Regions from separate parts of the Homo sapiens genome. Here region 1 is linked to region 2. The links come from fine-mapping of genetic effects on gene expression. A gene starts in region 2. The other region holds a variant in brackets. All regions are shown on one strand. Distances are between the middles of the regions.

What was found. PIP is the estimated chance that this variant, and not a neighbour inherited with it, causes the effect.
Region 1: its variant is the best candidate, but not a certain one, in a credible set for the expression of PPAN in whole blood (INTERVAL, PIP 0.62).

Annotation. Positions count from the first base shown.
Region 1 is chr19:10,206,358-10,211,729 of GRCh38, reverse strand. No RefSeq gene overlaps it. Among named protein-coding and RNA genes, the nearest start is that of DNMT1, 14 kb to the right of the region's middle. The variant AC/C (reference allele first, on the strand shown) is at 3,060.
Region 2 is chr19:10,103,528-10,108,899 of GRCh38, reverse strand. PPAN (peter pan homolog) reads right to left here and starts at 2,538. Exons shown (of 12, transcript NM_020230.7): 1 at 2,488-2,538; 2 at 2,229-2,399; 3 at 1,294-1,395; 4 at 1,046-1,096; 5 at 766-936. The coding sequence starts at 2,505. It overlaps PPAN-P2RY11 (PPAN-P2RY11 readthrough), which reads right to left and starts at 2,538. Exons shown (of 13, transcript NM_001198690.2): 1 at 2,488-2,538; 2 at 2,229-2,399; 3 at 1,294-1,395; 4 at 1,046-1,096; 5 at 766-936. The coding sequence starts at 2,505. SNORD105 (small nucleolar RNA, C/D box 105) reads right to left here and starts at 1,249; the gene lies at 1,165-1,249. It also overlaps a transcript of ANGPTL6 not described here. RefSeq lists enhancers at 326-969, 2,612-2,661, 2,258-2,901 and a silencer at 2,342-2,391.

The sequences.
Region 1 (5,372 bases), 100 kb before region 2:
AATTAGTTGGGCATGGTAGCAGGAACCTATAGTCCCAGCTATTCAGGAGGGCAAAGCAGGAGGATCACTTGAACCCAGGAGTTGGAGGATGCAGTGAGCTATGATGGCACCACTGCACTCCAGCCTGGGCAGTAGAGTGAGACTGCCTCTCTAAAAACAAACAAACAAACAAACAAACAAAAAACCTACAAACGGTTTCTAAACCGTCTCTCCATCCTCATATCTAGCCATTTTTTCCCATTTGTCTACAAAGCTGACATACTTGCCCAAAATTCAGACACCCAATACCACCACCTTCCCCCTTTTTTTGGACAGATTTAACTATTCTCGGATAAGAAATTCAAAGAAAGCAATACCACCACCCTTCCTTGAATGTCTTATCCAAGAATAGACAAATCTGTCCAAAAAAAGGGAAATGAAGTGGGTCGGATGTGATTCATTGTTGTCGGCAATTGTGGTGGCATAACTGTTAAAAGTGCATACTATCAAGTTAGGAAAAGCAGATTTGAATCTCACATCCCACACTCAACAACCCAAGTAGCTTTTGGGGATGGCACATGACAACTGTCAGCTGGCCTCATCTATAAAATGAGTATGTTACTTTATTTTTTTTGAGATGGAGTCTCACTCTGTCTCCCAGGCTGGAGTGCAGTGGCACGATCTTGGCTCACTGCAACCTCCGCCTCCCAGGTTCAAGTGATTCTCCTGCCTCAGCCTCCCCAGGAGCTGCGATTACAGGTGCCCACCACCACGTCCAGCTAATTTTTGTATCTTTAGTAGAGACGGGGTTTCATCATGTAGCCAGGCTGGTCTCAAACTCCTGGCTTCAAGTGATCTACCTGCCTCGTGATCCACCCGCCTTGGCCTCCCAAAGTGCTGAGATTACAGGCGTGAGCCACTGCACTCAGCTCATTACTTTTAATAGCAAAGATCGCAATTACCTTTGCACCAACTAATGATCCCCAACTTGCAGATTGCTTTTGGAGAATCAGCTGTGGTTAATTGGTGGTCTTTTCCAGGAAGGAGTCTCCTCACGTGACATCCCTCTGGCTTAATTTAAGGCCAGGGCAGGCCTAGCTTTTATTCCTGCTCACCGCAGTGTAGACAGGGAAACTTTCTTTGCAGTTCAGGAGCAGACGCTGTGTATTTTCACGTCATTCTCCAGGAGGTGGGCAAGTCTCTGGCCTGTAACTGGCATTTTTTCTCTAGGGCTTGTGGCTTTCATGGACAATGGCCATGTCATGGACCCTGGCAGGCAGAAGGAGGCTGGGAAGAGTTGAGGGAGGAAGGCAGGGTGTAAGTGGCCTGGAAGGAAAAAAGGAAGCCTAAGTTTGAAGTGGGTGAGAAAAATGAAGATAAGTGCCTTGGTAATTTCTATAATCAGAATTACACAGTATGTACCCTCCTATGACTGGTTTCTTTCATACAGCATAAGGTTTTTGAAATTCACTTTTTTTGTTTGTCTGTTTTTTCTAAGATAGGGTCTTGCTCTGTTGCCCAGGCTGGAGTACAGTGGCATAATCATAGCTCACTGCAGCCTTTATCTCCAGGGCTCAAGCGATCCTCCCACCTCAGCTTCCCGAGTAGCTGAGACCACAGGCTTGTGCCACCATGCCCAGCTAACTTAAATTTTGATTTTTTTTATTTTTTGCTGGGCGCAGTGGCTCATGTCTGTAATCTCAACTCTTTGGGATTACAAAAAAAGAAAAAAATTAGCTGGGTGTGGTGGTGCATGCCTGTAGTCTCAGCTACTACTTGGGAGCCTGAGGCAGGGGGATTGCTTGAGCCTGGGAGGTTGAGGCTGCAGTGAGCTATGATCACATCACTACACACCAGCCTGGGTGACACAGCAAGACCCTGCCTCTAAAAAAGAAAGTTTATGACCCTTGTGTATAATATTCCATGTGAATAAGTAACTATTTATCTGTTCTATTATTGTTCATGTAGTCTTCAGCTTTTGGCTATTGTGAGTAAACTATTATGAACATTCCTTGTTCATGTCAATTGGTAGATATATACACTCATTCCAGGCATGGGATTGGTGGGTCCTGGGCAGCAGTAGACTTGGCTTTAGCAAATGTTGCCAAATCATTTTCCAAAGCGGCTATACCATTTGAGACTTCCTCCAGCAGCATAGAAGAGTTCTGGTTTTGCCAATACTTGAAAAAAATTTTTTTTTCATTTGTGTGTGTGCGTGTGAGGGTGATATTGTATTGCAGATTGAGTTTGCATTTCCCTGATGACTAATGAAGTTGAGCAGCTTCCCACGTTAGCCTTGGCCATCTGGGCATCCTCTTTTGTGAAGTGCCTATTTAGCTCTTTTAGCCACTTGGTAAAAAAGTGATTGTCATTAAGTTGAAGGAGTTCTATATGTATTATAGGTATGAGTCTTTTGTCAGACGTATGTCTGTGGCTTTTATTTTTTTGTTTGAGATGGAGTCTTGCTCTCTCACCCAGGCTGGAGTGCAGTGGCGCGATCTCGGCTCACTGCAACCTCCGCCTCCTGGGTTAAGCAATTCTGCCTCAGCCTCCCAAGTATCTGGGATTACTGGTGCCCACTACTGCGCCTGGCTAACTTTTGTATTTTTAGTAGAGGCAGGGTTTCACCATGTTGGCCAGGATGGTCTCAAGCTCTTGACATCATGATCCACCCGCCTCGACCTCCCAAAGTGCTGTGATTACAGGCGTGAGCCACCGTGCCCGGCTGTCTGTGGCTTCCTTTTTAATGGCATCTTTTGATGAACCAAAACTCATTTTCAGCTGGGCATGGTGGCTCACACTTGTTATCCCAGCACTTTGGAAGGCCAAGGTGGAAGGGTCACTTGAGGCCAGGAGGTCAAGACCTGCCTGGGCAACATAGTAAGACCCTGTGTCGACCAAAAAAAAAAAAAAATTAGCCAGGTGTGGTGGTGCATACCTATAGCCCCAGCTACTAGCTACTCTGGAGGCTGAGGTGAGAGGATCACTTGAGCCCAGGAGTCCAACATTGCAGTAAGCTGTGATTGCACCACTACACTCCAACCTGGGAGACAGACCCTGTCTCAAAAAAAAAAAAAAAA[AC/C]CCAAAAACTCATTTTCATAGAGTCCAGCATATTTTCTTTTATTAATGTGCTTTGTGTCCTGCCGAAGAAACACTTGCTTGTCCACAAGTCACATAGATGTTCTGTGTTTTATTTCAAAAGCTTTCCTGACTTTGCTTTCGTATTTAGATATGTGATGTGTCTGAGTTGTCTTTTTTTTTTTGAGACAGGGTCTTACTCTGTCACCCAGGTGGGAGCACAGTGGTGTGATCATGGCTCATTGCAGCCTCAACCTCTTTGGGCTCAGGTGATCCTTCCACCTCAGCCTCCAGAGTAGCTGGGACTACAGGTGCCTGCCATCATGTCCAGCTAATTTTTTTTTTTGAGAGGGAGTTTTGCTTTTGTTGCCCAGGCTGGAGTGCAATGGCGTGATCTCAGCTCACTGCAACCTCTGCCTCCCAGGTTCAAGCGATTCTCTTACCTCAGCCTCCCAAGTAGCTGGGATTACAGGCATGTGCCACCATGCCTGGCTGATTTTGTATTTTTAGTAGAGAAGGGGTTTCACCATGTTGGTCAGGCTGGTCTTGAACTCCTGACCTCAGGCGATCCACCCAGCCTAATTTTTGTATTTTTTTTTGCAGAGATGAGTCTTGTCATGTTGCTCAGGCTGGCCTTGAATTCCTATACTCAAGCAAATCCACCTGCCTCGGCCTCCCAGATTGCTGGGATTACAGGTGTGAGCCACTGCCCAGCCTGTTGGTAATTTTGATGGATATTTGTAAACTGAGCATTTAATGTGGGAAGAACAGGCTTCGTACCCTCTCTCATCTGTGTAGGGCTCCATAACACTTTATTGGGTGCTAACTACATCCTGGGTGCTTTGCTACACACTGGGCATCGGTGGGGGTATGGCTGATGTAAATCTCAAAATATATGATCAACAGCTGGGGTAAAGGCTCTGAAAGAAAGGGCCTGACTTCTAAAAGACCATGGAACAAAGACCTGAAAGGGCTAGGGGAGGTCAGGAAAGGCTCCTTGAAGGAGGTCATGGTTGAGCCACAATAGGGAGAATAATTGTAGATTATCCAAGCAGGAGAACTGGGCGTGTAGAATAGGACTTTCCAAGCTAAGGAAACAGCACATGCAGAAGCCTTGCAATACATATCTATGGCTGCATTAACAACAAGCCTCAAACCCCAGTGGCTCAGAACAACACCCATGCATTATATCCTGTGGTTTCTGTGGGCTGGGAATTTGGGAGCAGCTCTGTTAGGCGTCTCTCATGAGGTTACAGTCACATATCATCTGTGGTTCCACCCATCTGCAGGTCTGATGGGGGCTGGAGTGCAGCTACTTCCAATATGGCTCACTCACCTGGCTGATAAATTGGTTTCTCTTCCTATGGGCCTCCCTGCAGGGCTGTTTGAGCATCCTTACAATATGGCGGCTGGTTTCCTGGGGAACACAAGGTGGTGCTGCAATGCCTTTTATGATCTAGCCTTGGAAGTCACTCACCTTCTCTTGGCCACATAAACTGGCCCTGACTATGGAAGAAGGCTTGGCAGGGCATGAATACCAAGAGGCAAGAGACATTGAGGGCCTTCTTGGAGGCTGGCCACCACATGTCTTAGGCAGAAAGAGGCTGGAACTGTCCATGATGTGGCTCAAGTGGAGTGGGTTAATAGGTGGGCAGCAGGAGCTGAAAGGACAAGACAGGGCTGGGCACTGAGGCCTTGTGGGCTGCAGCGGAGAAGGTAGGGTTGGGTTTACCCTAAGAGCCCTGAGAAGCCATTCAGGGGATTCGGTGAGGTAGGGAGGAGCTAACATGATCAGATTTGGGTTCTGATGAACTTCTTCCGTGGTGAATGGATGGTGAGGGGGCCAAGTAGCAGCCCAGGAATGAGGCTGGGCAGGCATCCAGCAGAAAGGTGAGGGTGACCTGGGCCAGGGGCCCAGGAGGGGCAGATCAGCTGACTCAAGGGCTCTTTGAAGGAAAAACCCACAGGGCTTGGCAGCAAGCCTCTTGTGATCCCCAACAGAGAGCTGTCTGCCTGCTCAAAGGCCCCACGAGGAGTAGGCGGCTCTACCCAGCACACGCTATGGGACTTGGGTTTCTGCAGATCTGATTCCTAGCTTAGGCAAGTCGAGCCTGGAGAGAGTGCTTCTGAGGCCCTTCCAGGGTAAGGGTGGTAAAGTGTCCCCATTGTTACTGAGTGCTGCTGTTCCTGCCCAGGGCCTCTGATGGGCCTGGCACTGAGCACGGTGTCTGGGATGACTCACCTTCAGCCTTCTGACTGACCGTAGCTCAGGACACGTGGCCAGCTCTCCACCAGCCTTCGTGCTCTGGGCTGCC
Region 2 (5,372 bases):
AATTTATAAGTCCCATCTGAGAGTCACTAGTGACAAGGATTAGGAGCTAGGACTCAGGAGCCAGATGAAATTAAAAATCCAGTCCTGCCCCCTGGAATCTAAACTTAGCATCTCTGCCAGCCTCAGATTTGCTTTTTTTTTTTTTTTTGAGACAGTGTCTCGCTTTGTCACCCAGGATGGAGTAGAGTGGCGTGAACACAACTCACTGCAGCCTTGACCTCCTGGGCTCAGGTGATCCTCCCACCTCAGCCTCCCCAGTAGCTGGTACTACAGGCATGCACCGCCACACCGGGCTTTTTAAAAATCTACTTTTTGTAGACATGGGGTCTCGCTATGTTGCACAGGCTGATCTCAAAGTCTTGGCTTCAAGCGATCCTCCCACCTCGCCCTCCCAAAGTACTGGGATTACAGGCCGAAGCCATAGCACTGGGCCCGCAGCTTCCCTCTGTAAAACAGGGCCCTAAGAAGAGATGCTACGATCCTGCTCAGCCCAGCACTCAACACACGTGGGAAACAGAGCTCCATCAGTATTTCTTTCCACCGGCTGGAAAAGGTGCAGCTCACGGGGTGTGGACCGCTGGGGGAATCTCTGGACACTTTTGCCCAGCATCATCAGACACAGGAGTGGGATTTGACCTCAGGACTCAGCAGACCCAGGAGCTCCCAGTCTCAGCGCTGGGAGGAGTGAGCAATCCATCTGAGGGCCTGTGGCACCTCTATCCGCTGCACCCCCCCATACCTGCCACCTCGCCAGGCCAGACCCACCTTGTGCACGTTGATGGAGGGGAACAGGTTCTGGAACATGGTGGCCATGAGCTTCACATGCATACCATGGGGGCCAAAGCTGTTGAGTACCAGGAGGGGTGGGTGGGCAAACTGCTGCTCGTGCATGCGGTGCCGGCGCAGTGAGGAGACCACATCACGCACCAGCGAGTACTGTAGGACAGGAGAGAGGAGGGGGTGACCACCAACCACACATGGCTGCGGACAACCCCAAGTCCAGCTCCCACCCCACATGGCTTTGTACCACCTCCACCCCTCTCACCTTCTTGACCTGGAAGGTCAAGGTGGGGCCTCCTGGGAGGCGCATCAGCTTCTGCAGGAGAAGAAAAGATCAGTGACTCTGGAGGGGTCTAGCAGAGGTGCCCGGAGTAGGCACCTTTGCCCCATCTCTTCTTCAGAGCGTTTACTTTGAAGCCAGAAATCACAGCAGCTCAGAGGCATATGTGTTCATCATGAGAGATAGGGGAAGGGGGGGTCTGGGGGAGATGAAGGGTGAGGGCGTCTACTCACAAAGTAGACATTGGTCTCTGTTTTGCTCAGGATCAGAAAGTGTGTGACCCCGAGGGGCCCAGCCACTGCCACGCAGTCCTTCAGCGAGTTCTTCTTACGAACCTGGAAATGACAAAAAGAAAAAAAGAAAACATAGCTTATCCCTTGTTGTGACAACTATAAGCTGACGGTGCAGATCCTGTTATGGTCTGTCTTGCATCTGACCCTTTCAACAAGCCCAGAGGAGCAAAAGGATCTTAGCCTTTAGAGTCAGTCGGACGCAGATTTGAGTTCTAACTCTGTCTCTTGCTCACAGCGCATCTTCCCATTGACAAATGAGCGAACTCAGGCCCAGAGAGGTTAAGTAACTTGCATCAGATACTGGGGAGAAGTCAGTTTCCAACCCTGCTTTGCTGCCTCCAGATTCTAGTCTTTTTTTTTCTAACACGGTCTCCTCCGGTCGCCCAGACTGGAGTGAAGTGGCACGATCCCGATTCACTACAGCCTTAATTTCCTGGGCTCAAGGAATCCTCCCACCTCAGCCTCCCGAGTAGCCGGGACTACAGGCACGCAACACCATATCCGACTAATTTTTCTATTTTTTGTAAAGACGGGGTTTCACCATGCTGCTCAGGCTGGTCTCGAATTCCTGGGCTCAAGTGATCCTCCCGCATCAGCATCCCCAAATGCTGGGAATACAGGCATGAGCCACCACGCCCGGCTCCAGATTCCAGTCTTAACTGTCAGGCTTAGGCGACTATCTATCTCCCAAGCTGCGCGCCCTCACTCCAGCCCAGCAAAAGCCCTGAAAGGCAGAAATGATGCTCCCCATGAGGGTCTTTTTTTCCAGCTGGGGAGACTTAAGTCCTCCCACAGTTTTACAGCGGGAGCCATTACTGCAGCTACGAAGACTAGGCCGAGGGTGGGTGGAGGCGGGCTGGGGGTGGGGTACAAACCTGCAGACGGCTGGCAGTGAGCGGCTCCATGACCCGCCGCACGTCCAGGCTGAGCTGCCGGATGTTGCGACCCGTGCAGCCTCGCGTGAACACGAACGAGTGCGGGTTCGCGGCATAGGCCTCGAGGTTGCGGAGCTGCGCCTGGGCGCGGGCGCGCTTCTGGTGCCGGGACTGCGGCGACGAGAGACAAAGGGTCAGCGCCGCGACCTCGGCCGGGACCCCACCTGCGCCACCTGCCTCCCAAGCTGCCGGGCCTTACCCTCCCTGACTGTCCCATGCTGCTGTGTCCTCCACGAGGCCTCCTGCGTCCGCCGCTTCCGGCGCTGCGCAGCTCACTTCCGGCGCCTGAGAGCCGGCACGGCGTGGGACGACATCAGGCGGGCCTGCGCACTAGGTGGCCTCTGGGAGCGGGGAGGGGCAATCAGATGGAGCGGTTGCTATGGAGACACGGGTGCCTGTTTCTAGGGAGACCGGGGCGGGGCTACGCGGCTCCGGGCTGCAGAGAAACGAATCCGCCGGTTCGAATCCCGCTTCGGCCCATTTCCTCCAGCTGGGCTAAAACCACTTTCTGCATTCCGAGGCTCCTAAAATATCCCAAAGTAAGGCTGATAATGTCCCCCGGGCCCACGAATTAGGAGCGACCATGTATGCACAATGTTGGGCGCTCTGGCGCCAAGTACTTGGGGAGAAGCCACCGGAGGGAATGACTGTGGCAATCATTCACTTTAGTCTCGCAACTCCTCTGGGCCAGCTGTCCTCCCCGGGTACCCCTGTCTGCAGACAGGCTGAGGGATGGAAACTCCACATCACCTTCTGGAAACTCAGGGCAAGGCGGGCGTTTCGTGAATAACTCGCCCCCTCCTTCTTTCCGCTCAAAGCCTCAGTCTTGGCCTCAGGCCTCTGGCTTCTTCCCCAAAACCTTGCAGTGGGGGAAAGGGACACCCCCTCACTGGGCTGAACATTACTCTCTCCTCCCCCATCGGCCTCCTCTCCCTCCTTGCTCTCTCTGGCACCCCAATTCTTCCTCCTCTCCCCCAGATGTGTCTCCCCTCCCCCTCGTCTTCCCCCTGTCTCTTTCTCCCTCTTGTAACTTTGTCTCTGTCATCAGTTGTCTCTTTCATCATTTATAACTGAAGATGGAAACTAAAGAAGTTTCCTTTCTCTGTGTCTGGCCCCATCCCTGTTTCTTTCTTCTCATCTGCCTCCCTGTGGTCTCTCCCCATCTTCCCATCTCTCTCTGTCTCTCCCCATCTCCCCGTCTCTCCCTTTCTCTGCCATCTCCCTATGTCTCTCCCATCTCCCTATGCCTCTCCCATCTCCATCTGTCTGACTCTCTGTATTCTTCAGCCCCTCTCTGTGACTTATGAAGTTCCCTCCCTCTCTACTGCCAATGGGGAAGCCAGAGGGGGCTGAGGGTGGGGGGCCGAGGGGCCCAGTGTGGGGGCCCCAACCCAGGCCCAGAGCCCAGCCTGGCAGCCTCTCTCAGATCTGGGACGACCATTTCCTTTTTCAACCCTGGAGTCCACTCGAGTTACTCGGGAGCTCAGGATGGTGCAGACCAGGGGAAGGAGGTGACTCTCCCGGCGTGTGGCTGGTCGTCGGTGGGGCCTTTGGACAGGTCTCAGACCCTGGGCCTGGGCTCTGTGGGGCTCTATGTGAGTTTCTTTGTACCCCTGGGAAATGACTGCATGGTTACTTCCCCCAGTTCCGTCCTCGTGTGATTTGACTTGTGTGAAAATGTGACCGAGTGTGTGGGAGACAGACGGTGACCTCTGTGGTGCGGTGGATAGGTTTCCGGGTGTCAACTGTGTGTACCTGTTTTGTATCTGTGCACTACTGTGTGATCACAAGAACCAGGATGTGGACAAGCCTGACACACAGATAAAGACCCACTCAGCCCACCCCATTTCCCTTTAAGTTGTGATGTGTGTGTGACCATATTTGGAACATACAGTTGTTGCCTGAAACTGTTATGTTTCCAGCTGTGTCTTTTTAAAAATTTTTTTTAATCAATGAGATATCCTTTATTTATGAAAGCATAGTTCCAATGCAGAAGTCAAGCTTTATGGTTATATATTAGGATAGGTTCAGATCCAATATGACAATGTTTAGCACTAACTTTAACATGTTAAAGCTCTGATTCCTGAATGTTTTTCTCACTTAATATATTCTCTCCAATGACAAGCTGGTGTGCTTGGCTTCTTATGCTGAAAAATATATGCCTGAATTCTATAACAAGCTATTAACAAAATCATGAATAGTTAATTAAATAAGTGCCAACACTACATGGAACTTACTGGCCACCAACTCAGAACCATAAAACTACACACACACACACACACACACACACACACCACACACACAAACAAAACAAAAAAAACACCAAAGAAAGATAGCTATCACTGTACATATGAATACTGTCCAGGATATCAGATCAATTATCAAATCCAAGGTCTCTGGTGTTTTGTCTCACAGTGTTGAATATATGAATGCTTCTCTATTATACTGACTTGTATTATTTTCAACAAATAATTATGTGGACTCAAAATCTTACATTTTTATTTCTTTTCTTTTTTTTTTTTTTTTTTTTGAGACAGAGTCTTACTCTGTCGCCCAGGCTGGAGTGCAGTGGCTCACTGCAACCTCCGCCCCCCGGGTTCAAGCGATTCTCCTGCCTCAGCCTCCTGAGTAGCTGGGATTACAGGCATGGGCCACCACACCCGGCAAATTTTTGTATTTTTAGTAGAGACGGGGTTTCACCATCTTGGCCAGGCTGGTCTCGAATTGCTGACCTCGTGATCTGCCCACCTTGGCCTCCCAAAGTGCTGGGATTACAGGCGTGAGCCACCGCGCCCAGCCTTACATTTTTATTTCTAATTATAAAATCCAGATTAATCCAAAAAACATAAATCACATGTAACTGAGGTAGGGTTTTCACTTTAAGAATATATTGTTTCTATCACAATTTAAAAATTTACAGCTGTGTCTTTTATATTTATTTTTTATTTTAATTAATTAATTCCTCACTTTATTATTATTTATTTATTATTTATTTATTTATTTATTTATTTATTTTTGAGATGGAATTTCAGTCTTGTCGCCCAGGCTGGAGTGCATGCGGTTGCTCGATCTCGGCTTACTGCA